Regions from separate parts of the Homo sapiens genome. Here region 1 is linked to region 2. The links come from fine-mapping of genetic effects on gene expression. A gene starts in region 2. The other region holds a variant in brackets. All regions are shown on one strand. Distances are from middle to middle. Region 1 holds the start of VAT1 (vesicle amine transport 1). Region 2 holds the start of TMEM106A (transmembrane protein 106A).

Region 1 (9,439 bases), 190 kb before region 2:
TTAGGGCCGTGTCTAATTTCCATGACTGAGAAGTGGTGGGGAAGGTAGCTAGAGAGGTGGGGGTGTGGGGTGAGGGCACGTTGCTAAGGATAGCACACCAGACTAGACCTGGTGCCTGAATGTTACCACGGCAACTACACAGCAGAGGCCTCTGGGAGCCACAGGCCAAGGCAGCCTGGTGTTGCCATGACAACAACCCAGACAGGCTGCAGGGAAGGGGCCTGGAAGGAAATCTGGGTGGGGTAAGGGGTGATAAAGTGAGGGGACCTGTCACCTGCAGCCATGTGTACCAAGACGCTGTGGCCAGGCTGTAGGTTGCCGAAGTCAAAGAGGACCATGTAGGCTGTAATGTAATTGACGAGCAAGGCAGCAGCTTCCTCAAAGGTCATGGCCTCAGGAATCAGGAAGGTCTGGACCGAGGGCACAGTCACCTCTTCCTGCCACATCCCTGACCGGTTCAACACCATCACCCGGTCTCCTGCCTTGAAGAACAGAAGAGTATCATTCAGTCACTCATTCATTCACCCACAGGCTATTTACTGATTTCCCCCTAGGTACAAGGCTACCTTCTTCCAAATGAAGTAGCAGGAGAAGCAGCAATAGTCATGGTAATAATAATAATAATAACATCATCATCAACAACAATAACAACTCACCTTTACTGAGTGCTGACTGAGGGCCGAGCCCGATTTCAAGTGCTTTATATATAATGCTTAATTAACCCTTACATCAGTTCTTTGAGGCAGATACTATCCTTATCATCTTCTTACAGATCTTACATGTCACTATTGTGTAAGATCCCTGAATGCAAGAAGCTTACAGTTAGGGCAGCATGAAGTATTGTGGAAAAGATCAAACTGCTGTGGTTACAAAAGCGGTCTCAACTGTTTACTGACTGTGTGACTTCGGATGCATAAAAATTACTTAATCTTTTTGAGCTCCACTTTTCCAGCTCCAGTTTTCTTATCTGTCAATTAGGGCAGTTTTTCCAAATGGAAAAAAAAAATTTTAGCACAATGTCTGGCACATAATAAGCACTTAATAATGTTAGCTAACAATAATAATAATAATAATATAATAGCAGCAAGGAAGTCACACAACCAAAAGAAGACGGCACTGTGTGGTCAGGGCCATACCAAAGTGCAGGCAAAGTTCTCTGAGCGCTTACAGCAGGGTGTGGTCACCTCGGGAGAAGTGTGTTTGAGCCAGCACTGGGAGCCCAGAAAACATCTTCACTCAGAGATGGTGCAGGAGGGGCAACAGACAAGAAGGGCTACAGAGGCCTACGCAGCAGTAAAAGGCTTCCCCCCCACCCCCACGAGAGCCTCTGTGCAGGAGGGAAAGGGGACAAAGATAACAGAACCTTTCTCTCCAGCTTAGCAAGTGGGGTCAAGGGAAGGGCAGGGAAAAGGAGGGAGCGTCAGGAGAAAAGACTTCTCTGCGCTCTCTGAAGAGCATGAAGAGGGAGGTGTGGGTGCTGTTCTGGGACAATCTGGGTCTGTCTTGATCCCTGCCAGGAATGATGGGAATTCTGTATATTAACAAGAGTTAGGGTCCATGGGGAAGGGGGATGGGACTGCCACTTACGCCCTTTTTCATGTCCTCAAGCCCCCACACTCCACTGAATACGAGAACTGAGGGCATGCTGGGGTCTTTCCTTCCAAGTTCTGGCCTGAGATGAGGTCTGGAGAACAAGAACGGAAGCCCTCCACCCAGGGACTCAGGACTAGCAGATACAGAACAACCCAGGAGAGCTGCGAGGAGTGCATTGGTCATTTAGGGTCATGGCCAGTCCCAGATTTGACCCAGAACAAGTCTCACTTACCCTGGCTCATGCTAACCCTCAGGCCATCCAAATCAGGGCCATGACCCCTCCCCAACCCAGACACCAGGAAGGAGGAGGAGGGAGAGAGAGGGAAGGGCCCTCCCCGCAGAATCCAGGCTCTTACATCAGATTCTTGCCCTGGACAGGATATCCTGTATTTACCAGGCGGAAAGTGTATGGAGGGGAGGTGAGGTGGGTGGCCTTCAGCAGTAACATGAACTACAACTACCTCCCGAAAATATTCCTCTTAGACGCCTGCTCAAGAGTGGGATCATTTAGAAGTCAGTTTGAGGGTGGGGCCAGAGCTGAATTCAGAGGAAAGCCTTAAGGAGAAGCTGTTTGCATACAGGATGAATCCAACAAACCTGGCTCCAGAATTGGGCTGGCAGGTCTGCAAGAGGCTGCATCTGTGGGGCCTCTCATTGAGGGGTCTGATTTAAAAAGGAAACTCCTGGCCAAGCGCAGTGGCTTATGTCTGTAACCCCAGCACTTAGGGAGGCCGAGGTGGGCAGATCACCTGAGGTCGGGAGTTCGAGACCAGACTGACCGACATGGAGAAACCCATCTCTACTAAAATACAAAATTAGCCAGGCATGGTGGCGCATGCCTGTAATCCCAGCTACTCGAGAGGCTGAGGCAGGAGAATCGCTTGAACCCGGGAGGCAGAGGTTGCGGTGAGCCGAGATCGCGCCATTGCACTCCAGCCTGGGCAACAAGAGCGAAACTCCGTCTAAAAAAAAAAAAAAAAAAAAAGAAAAAGAAAAAAAAAAGAAACCTCTAAACAAATGGCGTGCTGAGGCCTCATCCCAGGTCTCTCAAAAAGCTGATCATTTTGAGCTCTCTGGTGTCCAGGGTTGTGGCCAAGATTAATGATAAATGAGAAGGAGAAACAGGCCTGCAGACTTGGCCAACCAGTTCAAGGCGCCGCACCTCTCCGTTCCAGTCCAAACCCCTGGCACTGGGGTTTCTGAAGTGGGGGTCCTCTGCAGGAGGAAGGCAGAGGTGGGTCCCCCCTTCCACTCCCCGCCCCAGGCATTCCCAAGGGCAGCCCCGGGTCGTGGCCCGAAGGCTGAGGGCTGAGTCACAGGAGGAGGAGATACTGCAGTCACGGGAGACACAGAGCCCAAGACAAAGATCGGATGACCCAATCCCGCCTCCCCCACCCCAAAATCAGATCGGCGGTGTAAGGCTGGTGGCGGTGGGGTAGCAAAGGCTCTCTCTCCTCCGTGATGGGCGTGTCTCGTCTCTTTGGCCTTGCTTTGGGAGGGGCCGCCTCACACCCCCACAGACCACGGGGCTGCATGTGACCAGGACTCTGGCACGGCCGCTGTGCCCCCGCCCAACCCCGACGACATAGCCCCTCAAGCTCCCTCGGGGAAAGGGGGCACTAACCGTCACTCATAGTCACAGACCACAATTACCCAGAGAGTGTTTGGTGGGTAGGGGTACAGGTGTGGTTTTAATGGGGGGGGGGGGGGGGGGTGGGGACGGTAGTGTGGTTGTGCGCATGCGCATGGGCACCTTATTGTTTTCCCCCCCACCAGCACAGCTTCTGGGCGGCGGCCACAACTAAAAATGGTTGGGGAAGGGGCGATAATTTCGTCTCCCCTCCCCACATAAATGCCGCTCTCCAGGAGCCCCCAAACACAAGTTCCTTGGCTACGCTTTCCACGCTCGTGCACCCAGGTCCGCGCCAGTTTCTCCCGCCCTGCCACACCCCCGGCGCTCGCCCACTCGTGCCCCACTGCCCAGTGGCCTGCGCAGCCCTGCCCTGCCCTACGCAACCCGCTCACCTTGCGGTCGCTGACTCCCTCGCCCACTGCGATCACAACACCCGCGCCCTCCATGCCCGGAGTGACAGGCAGAGGCGGGAGACGGTCGTACAGCCCCTGCCTAGCCATGAGGTCTGCGAAGTTGAGCCCGCAGGCCCGCAGACGCAGCGTCAGCTGGCCGGGCCCAGGGGCCGGGGGCGCTGCCGGCCGGCTCTGCAGCTTCACCTTGTCGTAGCCTCCAAAGCCGGTGAGCACTAGGCAGCGCAGCAGTGGCGG[C/T]GAGGCGGCGGCGGCGGCGGCCCCTTCGGAGGCCGCGGGATGCTGGGGGTCGCTCGCTGCCTCGGTTTTCGGAGGCGGCGAAGAGGCGTCTTCCCCGGTCGCTGCCTCGGCTACCTCTCTCTCGTCGGACATGGCTGGGACTCCCGACGAGAGCGCACAGCTGGATGGAGAGTGCACAGCTGGGGAAGGCGGAACGCGTCGGGAAGAGCCGCGGCTGCGGGATCCAGCGGGAGGGGCGGGGCGCCGGGCGAGGCGGGGCCTCGCGCTCAGCCTTAAAGGGCCAGGGCCATAGTGGCGCAAGCTGGGAGAGCACGAAAAGGGGCACCAGGAACGTCTGTGCTCTTGGGATCAAGCCGACTGTGATTTATTTATTCATAGTAAACCTTATTCAAATTAAAAACTATTTTAAGGGATAGGCCTGGCGCGGTGGCTCACGCCTGTAATCCCAGCACTTTGGGAGGCCGAGGCTGGTGGATCATTTGAGGTCAGGAGTTCAAGACCAGCCTGGCCAACATGGTGAAACCCCCGTCTTTACTAAAAATAAAAAAGTTAGCCGGGCGGTAGTGGCGCGCGCCTGTAATCTCAGCTACTTGGGAGGCTGAGGCAGAGGAATCGCTTGAGCCTGGGAGGCGGAGGTGAGCCGAGATCGCGCCACTACACTCCAGTCTGGGCAACAGAGTGAGACCCTGTTAAAAAAAAAAAAAAAAAGGGCCGGGCGGCGTGGCTCACGCCTGTAATCCCAACACTTTGGGAGGCCGAGGCGGGTGGGTGGATCACCTGAGGTCAGGAATTCGAGACCAGCCTGACCAGTATGGTGAAACCCCAGCTCTACTAAAACTACAAAAATTAGCCAGGCATGGTGGCAGGTGCCTATAGTCCCAGCTACTAGGGAGGCGGAGGCTGGAGAATTGCTTGAACCCAGGAGGCGGAGGTTGCAGTTAGCCAAGATCATGCCGCTGCACTCCAGCCTGGGCTACAGAGGGAGACTCCATCTCGAAAAAAAAAAAGGCCGGGCGCGGTGTCTCACGCCTGTAATCCCAGCACTTTGGGAGGCCGAGGCGGGCAGATTACGAGGTCAGGAGATTCACCTGGCTAACACGGTGAAACCCCGTCTCTACTAAAAAATACAAAAAATTAGCCAGGCGTGGTGGCAGGCGCCTGTAGTCCCAGCTACCTGGGAGGCTGAGGCAGGAGAATGGCATGAACCCAGGAGGCAGAGCTTGCAGTGAGTCGAGATCGCGCCACTGCACTCCAGCCTGGGCTACAGAGCGAGACTCCGTCTCAAAAAAAAAAAAAAAAAGTTAAGGAACAGTCCCAAAACTTGAACTTACATCAGATTTGGAGTTAACTCATATCAGATTTGGAGTCAGCCACCTGTGGACTGGAGTCCAACTACATTGTGTCTCAGGCTCTGACATCTAACCCAGGCAGGGATGAGACTTAATTCACTGTGGTCTTGCAGTGGCAAAGTAGAAGCATGGAGACCAAGCCTTTAAAACTTTCTGACTTTGGTGTTAACGTTCTGTTCCTCATTTTCCCTTCTGTAACATAGTGATGATGCTGCGTGCTCTAGTTATATTTATATTTTTATTTTTTTGATACAGGGTCTCACTCTGTCACCCAGGCTGAGCGAGGTGGGGCGATCACAGCTCCCTACAGCCTCAAACTCCCGGCTTCAAGCAATCCTCCCACCTCAGCCTCCTGAATAGCTGGGACCACAGGCATGTGTCACCACGCCCGGCTAACTTTATGTTTTACTGCTCTTTGCAGAGCAGGGCTACCCCATAGGCAGCGTGCCTAGAGTGGCCAAACCTAGCTAAGTTTTGATTTTTTTTTCTAGAGAGAGGGTCTCGCTAATGTTGCCCAGGATGGCCTCAAACTCCTGCACGCAAGCAAGCCTTGGCCTCCCAAAGTGCTGAGTTTACAGGCGTGAGCCACCGCGCCCAGCTTCTAGTTATCTTTACAGAATTATTTGCAGCATATATTATTGACTCGAATTGCCTCGATATAAAAAAGCACTTTTTTTTTTTCGAAACTCTATTGCACAAGCTGGAGTGCAGTGAGGCAATCTCGGCTCACTGCAAGCTCCGCCTCCCGGGTTCACGCCATTCTCCTGCCTCAGCCTCCTGAGTAGCTGGGATTACAGGCGCCCACCGTGCGGGTTTCACCGTGTTAGCCAGGATGATAGTCTCGATCTCCTGACCTCTTGATCCGCCCGCCTCGGCCTCCCAAAGTGCTGGTATTACAGGCGTGAGCCACCGCGCCCGGCCTATTGTCAGACTCTTAATCAAGCCTGACTTTTGGGTTTAGCTCTGGCTCCAGCAGAGCAACTCTGGCGGTTGGTTCTTTCTCTTCCTTATCTCCTTGTCCCCAAGCATCCACCAGAGGACGCAGCTCCCCCAAAACTTTCCACCCAGTGCTTGGCTGGAGGAACTCAGTCCACGCTTCTCTGCTAGTCTAGGCCGGCGGTTAAGTCAATGTAACCGGAGACCCGGCTGCCCGTTGCCATGGGGACGGAAAGCTATGATGTCACCACCGTCCGGGTGGGTGTGCTGGGGTTCACCCTCCCATTTCCCCAAGACCCCCTGCCAGGACATAGGCGGACGCGGGAGAGAAAACCAAAGAGGCTCCCTCCTTCCCCTTAGCATCTCTCTCCCGCCGTGTTCAGGAAGTGGATGGCTGCCCCAGCTCTTGTCCGCACTGGTACACCTGCGTGCACGCGTGGGTACACAGCAGGCCCGAGCTTCGCGCTTGTGCCGCTCATATTCTACCCCTAAGAACTTCGCTTGAACTCTGACCTGCCCTTATATCCGAGAAAGTCAAATAAGCCCAGTTCGGCCTGTCCCAAACCGGCAGGGGCCCCTCAGACCACACCGGCGGGCTGGACCCCGGCTCTGAGGCCTCTGTTCCCAGGGCTCCGCCCAGATCTTCTGGGCCCCGCCCCCCGGCTGCGGGGGTGGGAGGAGGGGCCGGGGGGGCGCGGCCGCCTGGCTGGGGGCGGGGCGGAGGGGGGGCCGCGGACCCGGGGCGGGGGCTCGGCGCGGGCCCGCGAGATGCCGGTGTTGGCGGCCCGAGCGGCTGCAGTTGCAGGGGCGGGGGAGGCGGCGGCGGGGCCCGGGAGAGGGGTGGCGTGGGGGACCGGCGCGTAGCCGGGACCATGGAGGGGCAGAGCGGCCGCTGCAAGATCGTGGTGGTGGGAGACGCAGAGTGCGGCAAGACGGCGCTGCTGCAGGTGTTCGCCAAGGACGCCTATCCCGGGGTGAGGGACCTGCGTCTTGGGAGGGGGACGCTAAGGCTGCTGGGGGGTGGGTGACAGGGGCCCTGGCGACGGATGGGAATGGGTACTCGGGTAACCAGGGACAAGAGACAGGGGGTCGGAGGACGCGGGGAGGCCTTGAGGGCTCAGGAAGGACTGCAGAGGATTGGGGTGGGAGGAATTAGGGAGCAGGGTGAGATAGATGGGGTTTGGGAGAACCAGAGCATCCGGGAGGGAGGGCGAGGGGAATGTCGGAGGTCCTGGGCAATGGAGAGGGGAAGAACTAGGGGGCTGAAGGGACCAGAAGGGAACAGGAGGAGGTCTGGGAGCTTAGCAGAGATTCTCCGGGGGGGGGGGGGGGGGGGCAGGAGCTCCCGGGATCTCCCCTTTGCCCAATCCCAGACCAACTTGTGTCCAGGGGCTGGGCTGGACGGGGTGTGGGAGTGAGGAGGGCATTTATCTGGGGTGAGGACTTGGAGAGATGATCTCATCTGGATCCATCCGTGTCTGCAGAGTTATGTCCCCACCGTGTTTGAGAACTACACTGCGAGCTTTGAGATCGACAAGCGCCGCATTGAGCTCAACATGTGGGACACTTCAGGTAGCCAAGTCCCTGGGGGTCACCCTGACTTCCAAGGCGGCCCACTCTGTCCCCTCCCTTGGTTAGACCCTTAGGTTCCAGGTAAGCCCAGCCCATCCATCCAATTCCAACAGGAAGGGAAAAATCAATATTCTGCTAAAATCCAGGGAAACTGAGGTAGAACTTGCAGAGCCTGACAGAAACCATGTCCTGAAGGAGAAAGCCTAGGATCTGAGCCCCTCAGCTGGGTCCTGCCTACCTGGGAAAGTTGGGAAGGAATGGCTTTTAATTTGGAACATGTTCCTTCAGAGATAAGACTGGGTTTAGAAAAGACATTTAGAGGCCAGGCACGGTGGCTCACGCCTGTAATCCTAGCACTTTGGGAGGCTGGGGTGGGGGGATCACCTGAGGTCAGGAGTTTGAGACCAGCCTGGCCAACATGGTTGAAACTCCGTCTCTACTAAAAATACAAAAATTAATCGGGCGTGTGGCACGTGCCTGTAATCTCAGCTACCAGGAGGCTGAGGCAAGAGAATCGCTGGAACCTGGGAGGCGGAGGCTGCAGTGAGCCGAGATCATGCCGCTGCACTCCAGCCTGAGCGATAGAGCGAGACTCCATCTCAAAAAATAAAAAAGCAGAAAAGACATTTAGAATGTCTTGAGTGAGGGGTGGTCAGGAGGCTGTTTCTCTCCATTGAACTAGATAAATCTGAGGTCAAGTCCCAGGAGAATGGGAGAGTGCTCTCCCTGCCACTGCTCTTTTCCTCCTCCCAACATAAGGAGGGTTTTTATTTTTACAAGAGTTCCCTTCAGGGCTTTAGACTGCCAAAGCCCAGAAAGCACATGCAACATTTTATGAGAATGTCTATAGATTTTATGAGCTTCTCAAAGGGGTCCAAACCTCAGTCAAGAATAAAAATTATTACTTTTTAAACCACTAGGGAAGCAGAGAGCCGTTTCCCACCATGTGACCTCCCTTCTGCCCGCTCCCCCACTTGGGAAACCCAGACTCCATGATGGGTATTAATGATGGGTATTAATGGTTGCTCTTTTCCATTCTCTGCTCCCAGCATCCCTTGACCAGGATCTGTAAGGTCTCCCATTCCCTTCCAGGCCTCCCATCCACTCAGGCCCCTCATGCCCTGTCTTCCTTCAGGTTCCTCTTACTATGATAATGTCCGGCCTCTGGCCTATCCTGATTCTGATGCTGTGCTCATCTGCTTCGACATTAGCCGACCAGAAACACTGGACAGTGTTCTCAAGAAGGTGGGAGCCTGGGGAAATAGGGCAGCTAGACTGAGGGGGACCAGACCACCATGGTCCTGACATAACATGGGCCAGGAGGAGGGAGTGATGGCTGGGGTATGGCCATCAGCTGGTTAGCGAGTGAAGCTCTCATCCCTGCCACCCCTGCCTCCAGCCCCCATCCCTCCCAGCCACCCCTTTCCTGAAAGTCCTCAGAGCTGGATACAGCAGCTAGGGGAGGTGGGGGAGTGAAGGGAGAAGCACTCACAGGATTCCTTCTCTGCTCTTCCAACTCCTTGGCAGTGGGAGTCCCAGATGGAGGGGATGGGATGGGAAGCCTGATCCTGGAGCTCAGGAAAGCCCTGTGGCCTCCTCTCCAGGCCCCAGTTTCCATGACAAAAGCCAGGGGTGAATGGACAGAAGTCAGCTAGGGCAGCCCCAGTTCCCAGGTGGGGGAGGGGAGGGTGGGATAAATTTGTTCCCAG
Region 2 (17,040 bases):
TGTTTAAGAGTGTTCTGTTTGGGAGGCCGAGGCGGGTGGATCATGAGGTCAGGAGTTCAAGATCAGCCTGGCCAACATAGCGAAACCCCATGTCTACTAAAAATACAAAAATTAGCCAGGCATGGTGGCGGGCACCTGTAATCCCAGCTACTCAGGAGGCTGAGGTGGGAGAATTGCTTGAACCCAGGAGGCGGAGGTTGCAGTGAGCTGAGATTGCACCATTGCACTCCAGCCTGGCTGACAAGTGAAACAACATCAAAAAAAAAAAAGAGTGTTTTATGTTTCAGACAAGGAAATAGTGTCCACAAATTACCTCACTCTTAGCACTGGGGAAAAGGTAGAAAGGTTAAGCCCAGTATACATTTAAATAATTTTTTCTTGGACATACCTGGTTCTCTGCTTCCACTCATATTAGGCCAGTGTCCAGAAAATCACATTTCCTTTGCAAGGTGTTTTCTCTGAGAGAATAATTGAGCAGACAAACTGTTGATATCCTTGTGTGTCCTCGATCACATTAATTTTCAGCTAGGAGTGAGAGCCATCATGGTTACCAGAGTGGTGTGTTTCCTGCAGTGCCCCTATCTTGCTTGCACCAGTAGAGCTGGGCCCTCCATCAAACCATGATCTGTAGCTATAAAGCTGATAATGAAAGCAATTGTGTTCTCTTTTTCCATCTAATTTTTTCTCTTAAGGAAATCTTATTCCAAGGATTAGAGCCCAGATTATCTTGTAAAAAGGTAATGATTTGTGTTTGTTTGGGGAGATAATTTGGTTTTCCTCTGCAGGCACCATCATGGGAGCAGCATTGCTGGAGGACTGGTGAAGGGGGCTTTGTCTGTTGCTGCCTCTGCATACAAGGCCCTGTTTGCTGGGCCACCAGTCACTGCACAGGTCAGTGTGTGTGTTTTATTTTCCTGAATCTCAACTCCATGTCACCAGTGAAAGTGATGGCATCTGTCTGGGTTGAAGAGTAACATGGCATTGTGGAAAGGGCATAGGCTTTAGATTTAGTCTTTAGTTAACACACAACACAACTCTGCCACTTTTTTTTTTTTTTTTTGAGACGAAGTCTCGCTCTGTTGCCCAGGCTGGGGTGCAGTGGCGCGATCTCGGCTCACTGCAAGCTCCACCTCCTGGGTTCACACCATTCTCCTGACTCAGCCTCCCGAGTAGCTGGGACTACAGGCGCCTGCCACTACACCCGGCTAATTTTTTGTATTTTTTAGTAGAGACGATGTTTCACCGTGTTAGCCAGGATGGTCTCAATCTCGTGACTTCATGATCTTCCCGCTTCAGCCTCCCAAAGTGCTGGGATTACAGGTGTGAGCCACCGCACCTGGCCAACTCTGCCACTTTCTAACTATATGACTTTAGCCAAGTTACTTAAGGGAAGAAAAGAGAAGAATGTATTATTGATGATCTATTAATATTTTCTATAGAGAGAAGCTATTCCAGGTGTTGGCACTATGGCATGAATAAAACACCAGTTCTTGGCCGGGTATGGTGGCTCTTACCTGTAATCCTAGTACTTTGGGAGGCCAAGGTGGGAGGATTGCTTGAGCCCAGGAGTTTGAGACCAGCCTGGGCAACATAGTGAGACCCCCATCTCTACAAAAAAATTTAAAAATTAGATAAGTATGGCCGGTACAGTGGCTCACACCTGTAATCCCAGCACTTTGGGAGGCCGAGGCAGGCCGGATCACAAGGTCAGGAGATCGAGACCATCCTGGCCAACATGGTGAAACCCTGTCTCTACTAAAAATACAAAAATTAGCTGGGCGTGGTGGCAGGCACCTGTAGTCCCAGCTACTCGGGAGGCTGAGGCAGGAGAATTGCTTGATCCAGGGAGTCAGAGCTTGCAGTGAGCCGAGATGGCACCACAGCACTCCAGCCTGGCGACAGAACAAGACTCCATCTTAAAAAAAAAAAAAAAAAAGTATGATGGCATGCACCTACAGTCCCAGTTACTTGGGAAACTAAGGTGGGAGGATCACTTGAGCACCGGAGGTTGAGGCTGCCGTAGTGAGCCACAATGGAGCCACTGCACTCCAGCTTGGGTGACTGAGCGAGACCCTGTCTCAAAAAACAACAACAAAAAAGACACTGAGTCTTGCCCAGAAACTATGGGAAACAAGTGAGGTGCATGGATACTTAAAGTACATAGTAAGATACTATGCTGGCCGGGTGTGGTGGCTCATGCCTGTAATCCCAGCACTTTGGAAGGCTGAGGCGGGCGGATCGTGAGGTCAGGAGTTCGAGACCATCCTGGCCAACATGATGAAACCCCGTCTCTACTAAAAATACAAAAATTAGCCAGGCATGGTGATGTGTGCCTGTAATCCCAGCTACTTGGGAGGCTGAGGCAGGAGAATCACTTGAACCTGGGAGGTGGAGGTTGCAGTGAGCTGAGATTGTGCTACTGCACTCCAGCCTGGGCAACAGAGTGAGACTCCATCTCAAAAAAAAGAAAGATACTATGCCAGTGCTATCAGACAGATGAAACACTTCAGCCTGGTGTGCCCAAGTAAGGCTTTCTGGTAGATGATGCCTGAACTGAGTCCTAAAGGACGGAGTAAATGTTCATCAGGAAAGAGGGAGGGAAAGGGTATTGTAGACAGTGTAGCCAGTAAAAAAGACTTGGAAATGTGAGCATGGAGTGTGAATCCGGTCTAAGAAGAGGAGTAAGACGAAAAAAGACTGGCTGGGCTTGGTGGCTCACACCTGTAATCCCAACAGGTTGGGAGGCCAAGGCTGGTCGATTATTTGCGTCCAGGAGTTCAAGACCAGTTTGGGCAACAGGGCAAAACCCTGTCTCTACTAAAAACATAAAAAATTAGCTGGGCATGGTGGTATACGCCTGTGGTCCCAGATACTCAAGAGGCCGAGGTGGGAAGATCACTTCAGCCCGGGAGGCAGAGGTTGCAGTGAGCTGAGATCACACCACTGAACTCCAATGTGGGTGACAGAGTGAGACCATGTCTCAAAAAAAAAAAAAAAAAAAAGGCTGGGTGTGGTGGCTCACGCCTGTAATCTCAACACTTTGGGAGGCTGAGGCGGGTGGATCATGAGGTCAGGAGTTCGAGACCAGCCTGACCCACATGGTGAAACCCCATCTCTACTAAAAATACAAAAATTAGCTAGGCGTGGTGACGTGCCTGTAATCCCAGCTACTCAGGAGGCCGAGGCAGGAGAATCGCTTTAACCTGGGAGGCGGATGTTGCAGTGAGCCGAGATTGCGCCACTGCACTTCAGCCTGGGTGACAGAGCGAGACTCTGTCTCAAAAAAAAAAAAAAAGAAAAAGAAAAACAGACCAAATATGTAGGCAGGATGCTGTGTTATGAGGTTTGGATTTTATTTTAAGGCTAATTAATAGGAGGAGCAATTGAAGGGTTTTAAGGAAGTGATTGACATGATGAGATCTGTTTTTAGTAAGATTACCGGCTACATTGTAGAGGCTGGTAGAGCCAGTAAAGAAATCCAGTTGGGCGTGGTGGCTCATGCCTGTAATCCCAGCACTTTGGGAGGCCGAGGCGGGCAGATCACGAGGTCAGGAGTTCAAGACCAGCCTGGCCAATATGGTGAAACCACATCTCTACTAAAAATACAAAAATTGCCGGGCGTGGTGGCACGTGCCTGTAGTCCTAGCTACTCGGGAGTCTGAGGCAGAAGAATTGCTTGAACCTGGGAAGCAGAGGTTGCAGTGAGCTGAAATCATGCCACTGCACTCCAGCCTGGGTGACAGAGCGAGACTCCGTCTCAAAAAAAAAAAAAGGAAATCCCTAAGAGAATCCATGTATTGGTGGAAAGGAAGGGTAGAAAAGATAATTAAGAGATGGAAATGGCATAACTTTGAGATGATGATTAAGTGGCTAAAAAGAAGGATAGGCTGGGCACGGTGGCTCACATCTGTAATTTCAGCACTTTGGGAGGCCAAGGTGGGCAGATCACTTGAGTTCAGGAGTTTGAGACCAGCCTGGGCAACATAGTGAAACCTTATCTCTACAAAAAATACAAAGAAATTAGCCGGACTTGGTGGCGCACACCTGTAGTCCCAGCTACTTGGGGGGCTTAGGTGGGAGAATAGCTTGAGCCCCAGAGGCAGAGGCTGCAGTGAGCTGAGGTCATGCCACTGCACTCCAGCCTGGGCAACAAAGCCAGACACTATCTTGGGGTGGAGGGGAAAAAGTCAAGGATAAATCCCAAGTTTCTGGCTTAGTACCATTCATTAAGAGCAGAAGAAGAGAACTAGGTCAGTTTTGCTGGACAGTGTTGAGTTTGTGGCATATCCAGGTAAAGGTAAAGATATCCAGAGTGCAGCTGGATATATAGTTGTCCCTCAGTATCTATGACGGTTGGCTCCAGGACCCCCTGTGGGATACTGAAATCCATAGATGCTTAAGTCCCTTATATAAAATAGTGTAGTATTTATATATAACCTAGGCACATCTTCTTGCTTGCTTGTTTAGTTTTAGTTTTTTAGATACAGGGTCTTGCTCTGTCATCCAGGCTGGAGTGCAATAACTAGATTGTAGCTCACTGCAGCCTAGAACTCTTGGATTCAAGCAATCCTCTCACCTCAGCCTCTTGAGTAGCAGGGACTACAGGTGGGCACCACCATGCCTAGCTAGTTTTTTAAAAATCTTTTTGAAGAGATGGGGTTTCACTGTGTTGCCTAGGGCAACTAACTCCTGGCCTCAAAACAATCCTCCCACTTCAGCCTCCCAAATTGCTGGGATGAGAAACTTGAGCCGCTGCACCCAGCCCATCTCATATACTTCATCTCTACATTACTTACAATACCCAATACAATGTAAATGCTATCTGAATAGTTGTTATACGGTATTCGGGAATAATGACAAAAAAGTTTGTACGTGTTCCTTTTTTTCTCCCCAAATATTTTCAGTCCTTTGGTGACTGATCCATAGATGAGGAACCCACAGATAATGGCAAGCCAACGGTATCCATCCAGATCACAGGGGAGGGATTTGGCCTGGTGATACATGCTTGAGAGTCACTTGCCTACAGATTATAGCAGAAGCCATCTGATGGAATGAGATGATCCAGGAATAATGGGGAAAGCAAGAAGCAACCTTTAAGGATCAGGGAAAGGAATACTCTGAAAGAAAGCTGGGAACTAGGAGGAAAATGAAGAGAGAGAGTTCTATGCTGGAACTTAAGGAAGGGTGTTTTAATAAGGGGGACATGGTCAACGGTGTTAGATGCTACAGAGAGATATGAACTGGTGGTGAGGAATTTGAGAGTAGAAGTATGCCACACTTTCAAATAGACAGGCTACAACAGGCAGAAGCTAGGATACATAAGACAAGAGGAAGCATTTTTAAAGTTGGGTGAGACTTTAGAGATGGGCAAGCCAGCAGTGAAAGAGGTTAATGATAAAGATGAGAAGACAGATTGGAGATGGAGAAAGATTTCTGAAGTGGTGAGAGGTAATAAGATACAATGCAAGGTACATTCCATTAACCTGCAAAGGAGGATGGATAATCTATTCTGAAATAAGAAGGTAGAATGGAACAGTGGAATCAGGTTTGGAGGGAAATGCTTAACATGTTTGCATACTGTTCTCATCTTTACATACTTTTTCAACAACCCTGCAAAGTAGGAGGTATGATATATCTTCAGTTCATAAAGGAATTGATAGCACAGTTGGTAAGTAAATGGAAGATTAGGGTTTGAGTCTAAGCCTATCTGCCTCCCAAGTTAATAATCTTTCTGCTGCACAGTTTCAGTATCCCCAGTCTGTGAAATTGGGATAATAACAGAACCAGAGGCCAGGCGAGGTGGCTCACATCTATAATCCCAGCATTTTGGGAGACCAAAGTTCAAGGATCACTTGGGCCCAGAAGTTCAAGACCAGCCTGGGCAACATAGGGAAACCTCATCTCTAGTAAAAAATTTAAAAATTTGCCGGGCGTGGTAGCGCAGACCAGTGGTCCCAGCTATTTGGAAGGCTGAGGCAGGAGGATCACTTGAGCCCAGGAGGTTGAGGCTGCAATGAGCTGTGTTCACACCACTGCACACCAGCCTGGGGAACAGAGTGACACCCTGTCTCAAAAAACAAACAAAACAACAACAACAACAAAACAAGCGTTTAAGGATTTAGGAAGGTAATGCTTCCACCACAGGGCTTGAATGAATGAATGTTAACTTCCTCTTACCTATTCTTGTTTTTTTTTTTTTGAGATGGAGTCTCGCTCTGTCACCCAGGCTGGAGTGCAATGGCGCGATCTCGGCTCACTGCAAGCTCCACCTCCTGGGTTCACGCCGTTGTCCTGCCTCAGCCTCCCGAGTAGCTGGGACTACAGGCGCCTGCCACCACGCCTGGCTAATTTTTTGTATTTTTAGTAGAGATGGGGTTTCACTGTGTTAGCCAGGATGGTCTCAATCTCCTGACCTCATGATCCGCCCGCCTCAGCCTCCCAAAGTGCTGGGATTACAGGTGTGAGCCACCGCACCCAGCCCCTCTTACCTATTCTTTTGGAGGAGAAAAAATCAAGAAGCCTTCCCAGGTTGTAATTTCCCAAGCTGTTTTTTTTGTCCAGCTCCTCTGCATATCTGACAAAATTTCCCATAGCATCTTTCAGTAACACTTTTATCTTGCTCATACTTCCCCCATCATCACAATTACACTTATGTTCACAGGGTCTCTGGGGCTTGCTGTCATTCCTTCATCTGGCCAAAAAATGCTTCTTCCTGAAAGCCCCGAGTGAAGCATTCTCCTGGTTCTAAGTACAGTTCATTAGCTCCCCGGTTTCCCTTTTCTCCTCCTTCAAGTACACAGATAACTAATCTAAAATAGGGCCTTCCCAGTCCGAACCGTTGGTATCAAGTACACAGGAGTGCCATAGCCTTGAATCTAATTACCTAGTACTTTGAATAAATCTGGAAAGACTAGTATGCTTGCAAGATGATACAAATGTATAAAATAAACATTTAAATTATACAGAATTTTTTTTTTTTTTTTTGCTTTGCTTGTCTCTACACAGCCAATAATTTCTGAAGATCAGACAGCAGCCCTGATGGCCCATCTCTTTGAAATGGGATTCTGTGACAGGCAGCTGAACCTACGGCTGCTGAAGAAACACAATTACAATATCCTGCAGGTTGTGACAGAACTTCTTCAGTTAAACAACAACGACTGGTACAGCCAACGCTATTGAGGAGTGACCTTGTATTAAATAACTGCCTGCTGCTCAGAGATGATCTTTATTCTGTCATTGGGGTATGGGATAGAAGCCCTTGCTTATTTTTAATCTGATGAATCTGTATAGAGCCCATCGTTGAGTTACCAAGACAATACCTGCTACAGTATTTTGGGGAGCAAACTAAAGACCAGAACTTAAATTTTCACTTTAGACATTGGATGAATAGTATGAAGACAGTTTTTCAGTTGATTTGGATAAAACTATTTTAGTGCATTGACAAGTGTAACTTCAACTTCATATAGAACCATTTTTCTTTCTGCTTTTATTGAAACTGAGTATTTTTCTTTGGCTAATGTGGATTTTTTATGGGGATATCTGTTAATTTTCAGGTTTTGAAAGACATTAACCTCGGAAGTTGTTTTTAAGAATTATTCTCATAATTCTTATTCTCATAATTTCTGTAATCCACCTCAAGCTTCATAGTTATTTGGCATTGAAATAACACCCAGAGCATGATAGAAATGTTGTTACTCTTCCTCTCTCAAGGAGAAAGTAATTTTCCTGCAATACTTAATAATTGGCACCGTTGCTTTCTAAAGACTCCATGGTGCATTCAAGAGTATCCAACTTCAAGGGAATCTCCGCATTTCAATGAAAGGAGGAAGAGTGTGCTGATAAACCTACCAGCACCTATTGAGCAATGTCTATTATAGTAATTTTGCATACATTTTTATTTAAGGGAAAAAATATAGGTATTGTGAAATATTTTGCTAATCTTATAGAAAAGGAAAAAATCCCGTTATTTAAAGGGAAAAGTAAATTTAACAGTTGCCTTTTTTCTTAATGTCAGGGCAGATCTTATTTTACAGTACAGTGGGGGAAATAGAAACATGTGAAAGGCAAAAGGCAGGCTCCTAAATTAATGTCAGTGAAGTTCAGGGTGGGCAAATGAGTGTGTGTGAGGTATAGGAAATGCTGATGACTTCTTTAATGCTTGAAGTCCGTTCACAGGTATCTAGCCCTAGAATGCCTAGAACAGGAAGAGGCAGCTGGTGTTCTGCAAAACTTGGACAGGGGCAAAGTTGCTGAAAAAGTTTTGGTTTAACCCGAAGATAAGTGGAAAAGAGCTTGTCCATGAACCCAGGTTCTCACTCTGTTTACAGAAGTGTGTTGAGTACAGTTGGTGAAGGAAGAGGTAACAAAAAATGCTAAATATTTTATCCATGAAAATGACTTCCAGAAAAGGAAGAATATGAACCCCAGACCGAAGGGGAAAAGATAGTTAATAGTATTATCTAACCTGGTTGGTATTTGTAATGAATGGTGATTTTAATTAGTCATTAGCCATAATGATGTTTATTTACAGTATAACTCCTGAATGCTACTTAAATAAACCAGGATTCAAACTGCAAGCCAGCCAGGCCGTTCATTATTTAAAACGTTTTAATCGGGGCTTCCGGGTAGAAGGTGGAGCGGCAGGGTGTAATTGGGTTGATGGGTGGGACCTGTCTTGACCATCGGAGTTTTATAATCGAGGGCCAGGAGGGCCCGGGTTGCTCTCCTGGTTATGTATGTACTTGTACATAACCACCTAAAGAATGGTGAAATAAATGTTCTTGGAAATTCCTACCCGGACTGGCTAGTCCTTGCGGAAGCAGCGTCCGGGCCCTCGGGTAACGTTTGAAGAGCTGGCAGCGTCTCAGGCTGCTGCGTGGCGAAGGGGCGGACCGGGGGACGGGGGGGTGGGCCCTTAGGGGCTGGGGCGGGACTTCCCTGGGCACTGAGTCAAAGCTTGAGGGGAGTGTTCGCTCCCGCATTTTCGATTCCACTCTCTTCCGTTTCTGTCGCTGCAGTCGTCCGCGGGTAAGGCCCTCCCTAGACCCTTTATACCTACTTTACCTTTCGGAGGTCAAGACACCTCCTGTTGCCGCCTCCTCGCCCAACACACAGGCGCCCCCCGCACGGGTACCAAGCTTGACTAACGGCCTCTAGGGGTGTGTGGTGGGACTTGAAATCCTCCCTTAATGAAGTCACACCTTCTCCGTCCGCTTCCACCCGGTCGGCCCATGGCAGAGCCCCCATGTAGCCCAGGAATCGGCTTGGCCCTTCGGGGAGGTCAGCGTCCTTACTATCCCCACTCTCCAGTGCGGCACATTCGTTCCCCTAGGACTCCGGCCGGTTGCCGGCCCCAGGCGGTGCTTCTCCCCACCACCGCCCAGCTCAGCTCAGCCCAGCCCAGCCCACTCTGCCCTTAGAGGCCCTTCTCCCCAAAGACGCACTCCAGAAGTCTCGCCCTCGTGCGGCTGAGGAGCCTGGGATCCCAGACCTGAACAAGGTGAGCATCCCTATATTTTAGCCCAGAAAGATCTGTGTGGCTCACTTGCCGGCCTCGTTCTGTCACACAGAGTCCAGATTTAGCCTTGAGTTTTCCTAGTGAAAGACAGACCCTGGTATCACTATGACCCTCCTCAGGCTTTCTTACCCCGCCTCAGAAAGCAGTGAGGTGTCTGCTTTCTCCCAGGGCTTCTTTAGATAGGGGTCTTAACCACACCTGTGACCAGTCTGGCCTCCTCTCTCCTTGATTCAAAGAATCTCTTTTCTGCCCTATCCAACTTCCTTCCCTTAAACTGAATGACAGCTCAGCAACTTTTCCAGAGAAAAATTAAATGCTCTGACAATCACTTATGGAAGTTCCTTAAAGTGAAGTAACTTCTGCTTTTCTTTTGTTTTCCCTTTTGTAGGCAGATTGGTCTCTTTTAAAATAATGAAAGGAGTCGAAATGCATTGAGACTTCTGAGAGTCCCATGTGACCACCCAGTTTTTCACATCCTATCTTCCTTAGGCTTGAGCTTGCTTAAACTGTGGTGAAGCTCCTTGCCAGTCTTGAGAACTTCAAACCAAAATTACATCTGGCGTCAGTGCTAACAAGCTTAGCACTGAACTTTGGTCTTTTCTCATTAGTGAAACCCCCGCCCCTGAAGAATGGGTAAGACGTTTTCCCAGCTGGGCTCTTGGCGGGAGGATGAGAACAAGTCAATCCTGTCCTCCAAACCAGCCATTGGCAGCAAGGCTGTCAACTACTCCAGCACCGGTAGCAGCAAGTCTTTTTGTTCCTGTGTGCCTTGTGAAGGAACTGCTGATGCCAGCTTCGTGACTTGTCCCACCTGCCAGGGCAGTGGCAAGATTCCCCAAGGTGAGTGGCCCAAGGCTCTGGAAATAGCCTGGAATCCAGGGAAAGTTCTTAGCCTGTTGGCCTGGGGCAGCCCCTCTGAGTCTCCTTGGATGGGGTTAGATCTGCTCCCAGCTCTTGACCTCCCAGTCTCAGGCTGGCCAGGGAGATACTTAACTATCCTTGGGTTCCCTGCAAAAACCTGCCCTCCTTCCCTGGTTGTATTCTCCAGCCCCTTGTGGGAAAGAAGGATTCTAGCCACTGTGCTTCTGAGCAACACTGTGTGTCCTAGGATTCATTCAGTTCAGGAAGTTACAAATGAACTTTCCAAAGATGCTGGGCATCTCTGATTTGCTGGTGACTTTCAGAGATTCTTCATACCTATTAGTGGAAATCTCACTTCCATTCTAGAGATGGCAAAGCTGAGCTGCCAACTTTGGTAGCAGAGTCCAGTGCTTCCAGTCCTGCTCTGGGGCAGATGTGGCATGTTTCTAACATTGCTCTATGGTGTGGGTGGAGGCGTGCTTCTGGGAAGCTGGCACAGTAAATATTTGTCACAGTTGCATCTTGGCCCTCCCTCTCACCTTCTCTCTCTCTAGAGCTGGAGAAGCAGTTGGTGGCTCTCATTCCCTATGGGGACCAGAGGCTGAAGCCCAAGCACACGTAAGCCCCCCTTCCTCCCCTAGCTTCACAAGCCATTGCCCCTGGGGGCTGCTCCCTTTGTCTCCCCTGTTTTGATCTCCCTTAATTTCTTCCTATTAGTTCTTCCATAGAAAGCCTGAGCCTCAGAGGTACCAGCTCCTTACGTCCAAGGATTTTTTCCTGATTTAGAAGCTCCTGGACCGGGTGTGGTGGCTCATGCCTGTAATCCCAGCACTTTGGGAGGCCAAGGCAGGCAGATTACTTGAGCTCAGGAGTTCAAGACCAGCCTGGGCAACATGGTGAAACCCCATCTCTATCAAAAAAAAAAAAAAAAAGAAAAAAAAAAAGAAAAGAAAGAAAGAAAGAAAAAAGCAGCAGCTGTGGGCACAGCAGATGTCACTTGAGGCCACCTGGTGGGCTTCCTTAAGCATCACTGCTTCCAGAAAGCATGGCCCCCTCTCCAAGACAGGAAGGATCTGGTAGCTCTGCAAGTCCTCCCAGGAAGGAGGGAACAAGCATGTGGCCCTGGCTGCAATTGATTTGAAAATGTTATTTTTCTTAAGCACCTCCCTTGCTGAGGCAGTTCAGATTTGCTTGTTTTTCTTCTAGTAGAGATGAAAAACCTATTGTCCGCTGTTCTGGGATACTTCAGAACCTCAGGCAGACCTGGGGCCTACTGTGTTTGTGATCTGAGTCCATCTGACATGGAGCTCCCTCAACCTCCTCCCAAGGTCCTGGTGTCAACCTGGGAGTCACCACCAAGCCGAACCCTCTCCGCCACCCCACTATACCAGAATTAGAAATCAGGCTGGGCGTGGTGGTTTATGCCTGTAATCCCAGCACTTTGGGGAGGCCAAGACAGGCGGATCACCTGAGGTTAGGAGTTCAAGACCAGCCTGGCCAACATGGCGAAACCCTGTCTCTACTAAAAATAGAAAAATTATCTGGGCGTGGTGGCAGACACCAGTAATCCTAGCTACTTGGGAGGCTGAGGCAGGAGAATTGTTTGAACCCAGGAGGTGGAGGCTTCAGTGAGCCAAGATCATGCCACTGCACTCCAGCCTGAGCAACAGAGCGAGGCCTCATCTGAAAAAAAAAAAAAAACAAAAAAAAACCCTGTAATCCCAGCACTTTGGGAGGCCAAGGCGGGCAGATCACGAGGTCAGGAGTTTGAGACCAGCCTGACCAACATGGCAAAACCGCCTCTACTAAAAATACAAAAATTAGCCGGGCATAGTGGCAGGCACCTGTAATCCCAGCTACTCAGGAGGCTGAGGCAGGAGAATGGCGTGAACCCGGGAGGTGGAGGTTGCAGTGAGCCGAGATCGTGCCACTGCACTCCAGCTTGGGCGACACAGCAAGACTCCATCTCAAAAAAAAGAAAAAAAAAAGAAATTAGCAGTGCACATCATAAGATACTAACAAAGTACTATCTCTTTAATGCATATCTGAATTTTGAATTGGATGGATGGTGTCCTGTTCTGAATGTTAAAATTCAGAACTTCCAAATATGGACTTATTTCTTCTAGTGATAATAACTAGCATTCATTGTGCTTTTGCCATGTGCAGGGACCTGTGATTAGTATTTTTTCATATATTAGCCGATAACAAATTCTGTGAGGTCAGTACAATTATCTGCCTTTTACCAACAAGGAAACTGAGACTTAAGGAGGCTAAGTGGGCTGCTCCATGTTATTGGGTCAATGGGAACAGAGATCTGGGAGTGGAAACCAGGCTGCCTGCCTGCCAATCCTGTGCTCCTACTCATTCCGGGCCACATCTGGGGAGCTAAATGTTGTTGGGGTAGTGTGCAGGGGAAAGCTTTGTATATGGAGAGGAGTGTCTGAACCCCCTCTCCGAGTTTCCTTGGTGTTCAGACTTTTCCATTCCTCCATCCTGGGTCCTGCTTTCCCACAGGAAGCTCTTTGTGTTCCTGGCCGTGCTCATCTGCCTGGTGACCTCCTCCTTCATCGTCTTTTTCCTGTTTCCCCGGTCCGTCATTGTGCAGCCTGCAGGCCTCAACTCCTCCACAGTGGCCTTTGATGAGGCTGATATCTACCTCAACATAACGGTGGGTGGGTGCCCTTGGCTCCAAACCCCCCTTCCTAGCAATACTTCGCTGTAACCTTTGTCCAGTGTTATGACCCTGGGCATGGGAAGCCAGAGATCTTATGGCACCCAGAGGGTGTTGGGAGCCTGAAGAGAAGTAGGAGCAACCATGAGCTCCATGACAGATGGTAAGGATTGGGACTCTACACAGTAAGGGGTCAGAATCCGGGCCAGATAAGTAAACCACAGGGGTGGAGTGGGGTGACAGTGCCTGAGACTCTCTGGATGGACAGGACTGAATGGAAAGAAGCTGTACAGGATGGACCTGGATCCTGAGGCAGCTTAACTTCGTAAAGTTGACCCCTCACCATTCAATGCCCCTCCAAGGGGCTCCCAGTTTTCATCCTCTGCACCTGAAGCTTGTCATGGTAGATGGGGCTCAGGCCAGACAGCCAGGCTTTTGCAACTGTTTGGCTTTTCCTAAGGATGGGCCATCTTCACTCCTCCCTTCCCTTGTCTTCATCCCCAGAATATCTTAAACATCTCCAATGGCAACTACTACCCCATTATGGTGACACAGCTGACCCTCGAGGTTCTGCACCTGTCCCTCGTGGTGGGGCAGGTTTCCAACAACCTTCTCCTACACATTGGCCCTTTGGCCAGTGAACAGGTGACTCCCCTCTCCCTGGCCAGCCCTGCCCACTGGTGTGTGGATGTGTGGTAGTGGGAAAGGGGCAGCTGGAGTTGGGGCTAACCCTGTGCCCATTTGGTTGACAGATGTTTTACGCAGTAGCTACCAAGATACGGGATGAAAACACATAGTGAGTACCCCTTGATCTCTTCTCCCCTAGCCACTTGCCTGGCTTAGGGACCCAATTAATACCCACCAGCTTTCCTGATTGCTTAGCAAATTCTTCAGCCAGCATCTGGCCTGCCCTCCCATGGCCGAGAATGTAATAAGCAAGGGTTCAGGGTCCCCAGCCTCTGCTTGTTTGGACCTTGATTAGAATGAAAAACAGGCTGGAATTTGGTTAATCTTTACAATATGTGACCTTGGGCTCTTCAGCCTGCATTGCTGAGGAAGAAGAATGTTTTGTCTGTCTCCTGAATGGGGGTCCAGCATGTGCCTGGGCCAAGTGAGTGGAGGTCAGAGTGATAGTGCAGCCATGCTGCTACACTCACCTGAAGGGTGGGAAGGGGTGGGAGTGACATTTTGGGGGCACCTGATGGAAGGAAAGAGTTCTGTGGGGTAAGGAAACTGGGACCTGCAGGCATCTTCTGAGCTGACAGGCTGCTCCATGTGACACGTGGTCCCACGTTCTCTTTTCTTCTCTCTCAGCAAAATCTGTACCTGGCTGGAAATCAAAGTCCACCATGTGCTTTTGCACATCCAGTAAGTAGAGCTTGGAGCTCTGGTATCCCTGCTCTCACTTCTGACTTCATTCTCACTCAGCTACACCTCATGGGCAGAGAGTCTTCCAAGCTGACCCCATGAATCTTTGTTGGCTCTTGGGAATAGCAAGTCTAGCCCCTTTTCTGAGTCTCACCTTGCCTATAAGTTATTAGGGGCAACAGGCATAGGGCTGTCTGGAAGCTGCTGGAAAACAGGTGGGGCAGCTGTCCCAGGTACCTTGGCAGAGTGGGGAGCCAGAGGGAAGGGCAAATGAGGGAGCTCCCCGCTCCCCACCCCCAGACAGTATAATGGGGCCAGAGCTTTCCTTTTCCTCCCAGCCATGGCAACAAGGCCTGCTTCCTCTCCAGGGGCACCCTGACCTGTTCATACCTGAGCCATTCAGAGCAGCTGGTCTTTCAGAGCTATGAATATGTGGACTGCCGAGGAAACGCATCTGTGCCCCACCAGCTGACCCCTCACCCACCATGACCTGTCTGCTGTCCCTGTACTCCAGGCACCTGCAACCCTGGTCTATATCTCCCACAACTCCCTGGTGACTAAGGAAGGACTACAGAGGCTTTGCCAAAGGAGAAGCCCTGCCTCATCACACCCTTACCTCCCACCCCCTCAGCACAGGAAGCTTGCTTTGAAGTTAACTTCATACACACACACTCATATCCTCCAGTTTCCCCCAGATTCTTTCAGGGGCTGCCATCAGATTCTGCCCTTGGTTAGTTTTTTGTTTTTTTTTTGGTAGAGACAGAGTCTCACTGTTGGTCCAGGTTGGTTTTGAACTCCTGGGCTCAAGCGATCCTCCCTTCTTGGCCTCCCAAAGCACTTGGATTACAGATGTGAGCCTGTGCCTGGCTGGTCTTTCTTGAGGAAAATCTGACCTGGCATTTTCTTGAGGCACCTTAGATTCCCTGGAGTGGCACCTGGCCTTTCTGTACTGAGCACCTGGTCAGTCTGAAGGGGGCATTTCACCCCAGCTCCATCAGGGCTGGCTGTCCCGTCTGAATGTGGAGAGAGCTGTAGTTTTATCTGGCTTTTAAAACATGGACCTGCCGGCTGGGCGCAGTGGCTTACACCTGTAATCCCAGTACTTTGGGAGGCCGAAGTGGGTGGATCACTTGAGGGCAGGAGTTCGTGACCAGCCTGGTCAACATGGTGAAACCTTGTCTCTACTAAAAATACAAAAATTAGCTGGGTGTGGTGGCATGCGCCTGTAATCCCAGCTACTCGGGAGGCTGAGGCAGCAGAATCACTTGAAACCGGAAGGCAGAGGTTGCAGTGAGCCAAGATCGTGCAACTGCACTCCAGCCTGGGCAAAAGAGCAAAACTTTGTCTCAAAAAAAGACTCTTTTCAAGTTTTCTACCCTCTGATAAGAAAATTTGGGGATATCCAGTGCCATCTCCAAGGACTTTCAGGGGATCATAGATGCTTTTCTGTGCCTATCTGCTTTGACCATGTGAAAAAGTGATAGTCTGCTTCTCTCTGGTAACTTGTCTGCCACCCATCTGATAGTAAGATTAGCCAAGGCCCTTTAGCCCTCTGTCCTTTCTGGTTATTGACTGTCCCTGGTTCCTAGGAAGACAGAGTTGTTCTCCAGCTAAAGCGTCTCCTCTCTATAAAGTAGTTTTACTATTCTTTTCATAGCAGGAGCCAAAATAGTAGAGGAGGGGAGAGAGGCACCTGGCACTCTGCGGGCCTGCACAGGAAAAACAGAGCCAAAGACAGAATCATTGTATAAGATATTTATTAAAGGAGAGCCTCTAAGTCCACATCCTGAGCCCATGTGAGTGGACACAGGTAGGTAAAACGGTGGGTCCAGCTGCTGTCATCTGAAAGCCTTCAGGAGATGAAGCTATCAGTATCCAGCTGAAGGCTGCTGGGTTCTGTTCCACCACCACCTTAGCACCAGGGCCCTCTCTGGTCCCAGAGGCCTCATCTCTCCTTGGGCTTTGACAATGTGGAGCAGCACATCAGCAGGGACTGGTCTAGACCCTCCCTTTCCTGTCACTTAGCTGGAGCTAAGCTCCAGATAACCCCTAGGTTCCCACTGGCTCCTAGTAGAAATAGTTTCTGTACTTTAGCAGAACAGGAAGGATATTTGTTCATTAAAGGTGGCTTGGTCTTACAGCTGGGTGCAGTGGTATATACCTGTAGTCCCAGCTACTCAGGAAGCTGAGGTGAGAGGATCTCTAGAGCCCAGGAATTCAAGTTTAACATGAGCAGCAACATTAGCAAGACCCCGTTTAAAAAAAAAAAAAGAGCTGGGCGTAATGGCGCACACCTGTAATCCCACCTACTCAGGAGGCTGAGGCAGGAGAATCACTTGAACCTGGGAGGCAGAGGTTGCAGTGAGCCAAGATCGCACCACTGCACTCCAGCCTGGGCAACAAGGGCGAGACTCTGTCTCAAAAAAAAAAAAAAAAAAAGATGGCTGTCTCTTTATCATTCAGACAGAACGATGAACACAGGTGAGCAGGGAAAGCTAATTTTGAAGTAGGATGCATGGAGAGGGAGAAGTGGTGACAGAACTTGGTAACTAGCTGGCTGGGGGAACGAGGGGAAGGAAGGAGACTGCTGTCTCCAAGCTGAGGTCAGGGTGGTGTTGGCAAG

Evidence for each region.
Region 1: its variant is fine-mapped to the expression of TMEM106A in blood mononuclear cells (TOPMed, PIP above 0.99).

Annotation. Positions count from the first base shown.
Region 1 is chr17:43,018,318-43,027,756 of GRCh38, forward strand. VAT1 (vesicle amine transport 1) reads right to left here and starts at 4,068. Exons shown (of 6, transcript NM_006373.4): 1 at 3,619-4,068; 2 at 275-482. The coding sequence starts at 4,005. RND2 (Rho family GTPase 2) reads left to right here and starts at 6,914. Exons shown (of 5, transcript NM_005440.5): 1 at 6,914-7,132; 2 at 7,643-7,730; 3 at 8,866-8,975. The coding sequence starts at 7,031. RefSeq lists a silencer at 6,738-6,877. The variant C/T (reference allele first, on the strand shown) is at 3,874.
Region 2 is chr17:43,202,896-43,219,935 of GRCh38, forward strand. It overlaps TMEM106A (transmembrane protein 106A), which reads left to right and starts at 8,980. Exons shown (of 9, transcript NM_145041.4): 1 at 8,980-9,027; 2 at 9,332-9,499; 3 at 10,126-10,357; 4 at 10,933-10,996; 5 at 12,893-13,046; 6 at 13,554-13,694; 7 at 13,802-13,845; 8 at 14,364-14,417; 9 at 14,786-17,040. The coding sequence starts at 10,147. The coding sequence ends at 14,906. NBR1 (NBR1 autophagy cargo receptor) reads left to right here. Exons shown (of 21, transcript NM_005899.5): 20 at 786-891; 21 at 7,006-8,793. The coding sequence ends at 7,179. RefSeq lists an enhancer at 13,875-14,169.